Linked DNA regions of Homo sapiens: region 2 is linked to region 1. Evidence: fine-mapped expression QTL. A gene starts in region 1. The other region holds a variant in brackets. All regions are shown on one strand. Distances are between the middles of the regions. Region 1 holds the start of WDR49 (WD repeat domain 49). Region 2 overlaps SERPINI2 (serpin family I member 2).

Region 1 (2,926 bases):
GATACAGTTGGGCAGTGTCCCCACCCAAATCTCACCTTGAATTGTAATAATCCTCACATGACAAGGGCGTGGCCAGGTGGAGATAATTGACTCAAGGGGGCGGTTTCCCCATACTGTTCTCCTGGTAGTGAATAAGTCTCATGAGATCTGATGGTTTTATAAATGGGAGTTACCCTGCACATGCTGTCTTGCCTACTGCCATGTAAGTCATGACTTTGCCCTCATTAGCTTTCTGTCATGATTTTGAGGCCTCCCCAGCCATGTGAAATTATGAGTCAATTAAACCTCTTTCCTTTATAAATTACCCAGTCTCAGGTATGTCTTCATTAGCAGTGTGAAAACAGACTAATACATGCAGTATCTGAAGTTTGGGAGCCATTCTGTTCTCTTCCGTATGTTACTATTTGTGTGACCTTTGGCATTTTCTTTGCTTTTTTTTTTTTTCTTTTTTGAGACAGGGTCTCATTCTGTTGCCCAGGCTGGAGTGCAGTGGCACAATCTTGGCTCACTGCAACCTCTGCCCCCCAGGTTCAAGGGATCCTTCTAACTCAGCCTCCCGAGTAGCTGGGATCACAGGTGTGCGCCACCATGCTCGGCTGATTATTTTTGTATTTTTACTAGATACAATGTCTCGTCATGTTGCCCAGGCTGCTCTCGAACTCCTGAGCTGAAGCCATCCACCTGCCTCAGCCTCCCAAAGTGCAGGGATTACAGGCGTGAGCCACCTTGCCCGGCTTTTTGCTTCTTTATCAGTAAAATGGGGATAATGATCACATCTGCCTTGTAGGATTGTTGTGAAGCTTAAACAAGACAATGAACATAAAGTTTTAGTGCCTGGCACATGGTTAATACTCAAAAAATGTTAATTTTTCTTCTTTTTCTCCTCCTTTTCATTATTATTAGCTGAACCAGTAATGACACTGCAAGCAATTTTATCATTAGATTTATCATATTATGTTATGCTGTGTTTTTTTATCACATTTTCAACAAGTTGGAAGCTTTTTTGAACCATCTCTATTTTATATACATAGAAACTAAGACAAAAAGAATATAAGAAACAGATTCCTTTTATATAAAAATAAAACATTTTCTGTGTATAAAACATAAAATTCCAGAATTTCATGCTTTTCTCTTTGACTAATCATATAGTTTCATAATATATATCCTATATAATGGTAAAAGTTGTCTTTAAATAATACAAGATGTCGTTTAATAAAAAATGAGTGGAATGAACTGTCCTTTTATTTCAAAAAAAACCATTTCAACATTTACATTATATATTTAAACTTTCAGTTGGAGAGGGGGAAGTGAAAGGGAAAGTTTTAGTTGGCTTTGTGTTGGTTGCCAGGAAACATACAAAAGGATCAGAACAGATGAAACAAACAACTCCACATTGCTGGGAAGGTGGCATTCAGAGTCAAGTACTTCATTGGTAGGGAAACTCTGCAGCTTTGTCATCTAACTCTTCCAGACAAGAAAGTGGAATTGAAAACTACAACATGTTAATGGAAGCAAGGTTAGTTAAAGAGATTTTTGGGAAGGTGCTTTTCTAATGCATTTAAAATGAGGATTGGAAGTTGTTTTCTGTGTCAGTTACTATAAATGTGGGGAAAGCTTTACACATTTTTAATCAAGCCAGGTTAAACAGAGTATAAGGAAGGGGTAAAAATACCATTTTAAAAGCATTCAACTGTAAATTTTGAAAATAAACTCTAGAATCAAATAAGTGAGAGGGTTGAGGGCTTTCATTTCCTACCTCAGCTTGAACATTTTGCCTCCTGATCGTATGCCTTGAAAGGTTTGTACTTTCATTTTGGAATTCTGTTGCTAAGTTGAGTTTCTTTTCAAAGGCACCTGTTGAAGGAAAAAGAAGATCCATCCTTATAGAAATAGTTGAAGGCAACTGAGAAAAGGTGAAGCCATTATGAGTTGCCAGAAAGCTGTACTTGAGTTAAACATAGGGTCACAGCTTGGGCCAAAGAGTCCTGAGAGAACAGAAGGTGTAACTGCATTTGAAGACTATGGCACAGGCCTGCTTGAAAACCAACTCAGCGTGGGTGACTTTGTAAAAATACAGAAGGCCTTTGAGGTAAGTGTGAAGCTTATTGACCAGATAGTTTGAGTTGTTCATGAAGGAGCCTAGAATGAAACACAGAGATATTTTTCTTTAAGCATTAAAAAAATACACTTAATTGTTATAGCAGAGAATTAAAAATAATTGGTTAGGCCTGGATTTAACACAATGTGCTTGGTAGCTTTGCCCCTCAGTTCTTTGGGCCAAATAATATTCTTTAGTTTGAAATTGCTTCACTGAATTTCATTACTATCAAGAAAGAACTATTTATTGTTGGAAAAAATTTTTTTCTTAGAGATCAACATATTTTGGGGAAACAAAAAATTATGGCTGTGAGTGAAGAAAGCCAGATCTCTAAGGTGACCTCCAGGAATAATTGTTCTTGCATTTAATACGGACATAGAACTCAGCAAATGCAAATATGCATACCCAGTTTGCAAAAAATTTCCTCCTGTCTCACTCACCCTAAGTGGCACAGCTCCTTTTCTAAGCTGATTCTGGCACTTTGTTGTCCCAAGATCCCTTATGAGGGACGAGTCTCCCACTCATTTTGTAAATCCTGGAACAATGCCAATAAAAACAAAATTAGAATTTTTCATTTTAACTCTGCATAAAAAATAAACCATAGGAATTTAACTGTAAATGAATAATTTTCTTCTCTCTTAGTCAATGAATTTTGAATTCTGCAGCTATGCATAATGAACAGCATACATCAAAGTGGTTTTTAGTTTCAAATATGGGTAGAAAGAAGTGCTCTTCCATGACGTAGAATTTAGGTAGTCATGAGCCTCCAACATTTCTACTATATTATGTTTACTAAAGTATGATCTAGGGCCTTCTTAAGATTGTCCG
Region 2 (2,926 bases), 180 kb after region 1:
GTGCAGGTTTGCTACATGGGTATATGGCCTGACACTAAGGTTTGGGGTATAAATGATCTCATCACCCAGGTAGTGAGCATAGTACTTTATTGTATCATTTATATTTGATTGCCATTTTGTTTCAAACTTTGCAGGTTTTCTGCATTGTATTTGTCTTCTTTTGGAAAAGCAGGAAGAGGGCTTTGGGTTATTTTGTCCTAAGAAATAAAGCGTGAGGAAAATTGTAAAAAGTTAGCCAGATTACTCAGTTGCTTTAGAATACATTAATTTTCTAATATTATAGGTCTAAAACCACACTGGAGTAAGTCTGTTTTTATTCCATTTCTTCCTCTTGATCTATAAATTACTGTAGAGTAGACAGCACAGAAGGTTTACCTGATGTCAGAGTTACAGTTATCCCACTTAACCATGAGAAAAGATAGAAAAAAACTATTGTATAACTATTTGGAGATACCATTGCCATTGATAACATTCCAACATTGTAGTGTCTTTTTTGATTTTTGCTACAAAACTACAAGTATATTTTCTACTGGTTCTTGAAGATATGTAAGAAATACCATTAACACATGAACTATTTTTCTGAATAGATGATACTTAGAAATCTAATTGGATAGAGTTCACTTGTGGTAGTAAGTTCTATTAAGATAGAAAGCTACAACAGGTAGAAAGTTTTCTGTTGAGCTCTCTGTGGAAAACTCTATTTTGAAAATGAATATATTTTGATTTAAACAATACAGAGAAGTCAAAATGGACACAATCTTCTTGTGGAGTCTTCTATTGCTGTTTTTTGGAAGTCAAGCCTCAAGATGCTCAGCTCAAAAAAATACCGAATTTGCAGTGGATCTTTATCAAGAGGTTTCCTTATCTCATAAGGACAACATTATATTTTCACCCCTTGGAATAACTTTGGTTCTTGAGATGGTACAACTGGGAGCCAAAGGAAAAGCACAGCAGCAGATAAGACAAACTTTAAAACAACAGGAAACCTCAGCTGGTGAGACTCTTACATCTCCTTACTTATACTGGATAAGATATGGACGCATTCATTTTTTAATATTAGAAGTTCAGGATAAAGAAATTTTAATAAGTGAAAATGTAATGAAAAGTACAAAATTGTAATAAAATGGAGAATTGTAAATGTAATTTTCATTCATTTATAATTAATTCCTTTAAAAGGTTACAAAAATTATTAAGAAATTGACATCTATATAAATGTAAAATTAAGTAAATATTTGTACATTTTCTTTTAGTTTGTTTTAGCCAGTTTTAATTACTTGAGATTATACTGGGCGTGCATGTGTGTGTGTGTATGTACATACTCATAAAATATACATCTATACACATACATATTCTTCCACTATCACTATGTTGTGATCATTTTCCCATGTCATGGAACTGATTCAAAATATGATTTTTAATTACTGTATCTTATTGCCTCTTATAGAAGTACCATTACTTACTTAGCCTTTCTTCAGTAGGTTGTTTCCAACATTTCTCTTAAAAAAAATGCACCTCATCTGTAACGAGACCAAGAAAAAACATTAATTTGTTCATTTTAAAAGCTTATTTGTTACTAGTTTTAAAAGGAAAATGGAAAAAAAAGGATTTAAATAATCAGAGGCCTTTGTGCTTGTGAATGAT[GATT/T]GTTTTGTTGGAGTCTCCTCATGGACTGTCTGGGATAGTGTCTATCCCTCTTACTGGGATACTGTGCTTTTGTGCTGGCATCCCATTTGAAAGAATTGTTGCTTGGCTGGTGTGGTGGCTCACACATGTAATCTCAGCACTTTGGGAGGCTGAGGCAGGTGGATCACTTGAGGTCAGGAGTTCGAGACCAGGCTGGAAAAATACAAAAATTTGCAAGGCATGGTGGCATGTGCCTATAGTCTCAGCTACTTGAGAGGCTAAGGCAGGAGAAGTGCTTGAACCCAAGAGGCAGAGGTTGCAGTGAGCTGAGATCGTGCCACTGCACTCCAGCCAGGGCAAAAGAACAGACTCCTTCTCCAAAAAAAAAAAAAAAAAAAAAAAAAAAAAGTTGTTGCTCATCTCCTCAGCTATCTCATGCTCTCAGTTTCTATAGTTGTTTTAATTTTCAGCTTTTGGATTACTCTGAGATACTGTGTTCTAAATACAGATTTTTGATTTGGGAATTTAGTTGCTACAACTATAATTTCAGTGTATTTTTCTTATCACAGAGTAGCAGTATTTAGAAATTTGCTTTCCTGAAAATACTATTTACAAGATTTTATTTGCTTCATTTTAAATAAAGACAATTTTATACAGAAAAGACGTTGGTAATAGTGAAGTGAAGTTAATTGTAAGAATTTTTCTTTGCAAATAGTGCACACTGAAGCCAATGTATTCCAGATTTAGTCTTGATTAATTTCAGCAAATCCCAATATACCACTCCCAGAAACGTTTAAACCACATGCTATAGCTTTGAAAAAGTAATACAATATTTGTGAAGATACATAAATTAGAGTCTCTGAAAACTTAAATTACTTTAAATGGATACATGATATAGAGAAACACAGAAGTTTTAACAGGTGTGAATTGTGAACATGATAAAGTAATAGTAATAACGCACTATCAAAAATATAGAAAGGATATCAGCCACTGTTTCATGTGCTTAATATATATTCTCTCATTTAATATTTATAATTACTTTGTTAAGTAAACAACCTTGTAATAAACCTGAGAAAACTGAGGCAAAGAAAGGTTAAATAATTTGCTCAGTGCTAATTCCTAAAATAATTCAGTGAGGATTAAGAATATAAGAGCAATATATTCTCACTAATATATTAATAAGAATATTAATTCTCATATATTATGTAAGGCTCTCAGTGTCCTCAGTTCTCCTTCTTTACTTCATTGTCAAAACATCTGCTCTGAATTTACCTCCTCCATTTTGCTGAACATCTGTTAATAC

The links. PIP is the estimated chance that this variant, and not a neighbour inherited with it, causes the effect. A credible set is the group of variants that fine-mapping cannot tell apart.
Region 2: its variant is the best candidate, but not a certain one, in a credible set for the expression of WDR49 in lung (TOPMed, PIP 0.73).

Annotation. Positions count from the first base shown.
Region 1 is chr3:167,652,424-167,655,349 of GRCh38, reverse strand. WDR49 (WD repeat domain 49) reads left to right here and starts at 1,408. Exons shown (of 19, transcript NM_001366157.1): 1 at 1,408-1,516; 2 at 1,851-2,089. The coding sequence starts at 1,925. RefSeq lists enhancers at 1,148-1,670, 1,671-2,194.
Region 2 is chr3:167,469,656-167,472,581 of GRCh38, reverse strand. It overlaps SERPINI2 (serpin family I member 2), which reads left to right. Exons shown (of 9, transcript NM_006217.6): 2 at 738-994. The coding sequence starts at 748. LOC105374197 (a long non-coding RNA gene) reads right to left here. Exons shown (of 3, transcript XR_924683.3): 2 at 1,461-1,517. Among named protein-coding and RNA genes, the nearest start is that of SERPINI2, 2.9 kb to the left of the region's middle. The variant GATT/T (reference allele first, on the strand shown) is at 1,642.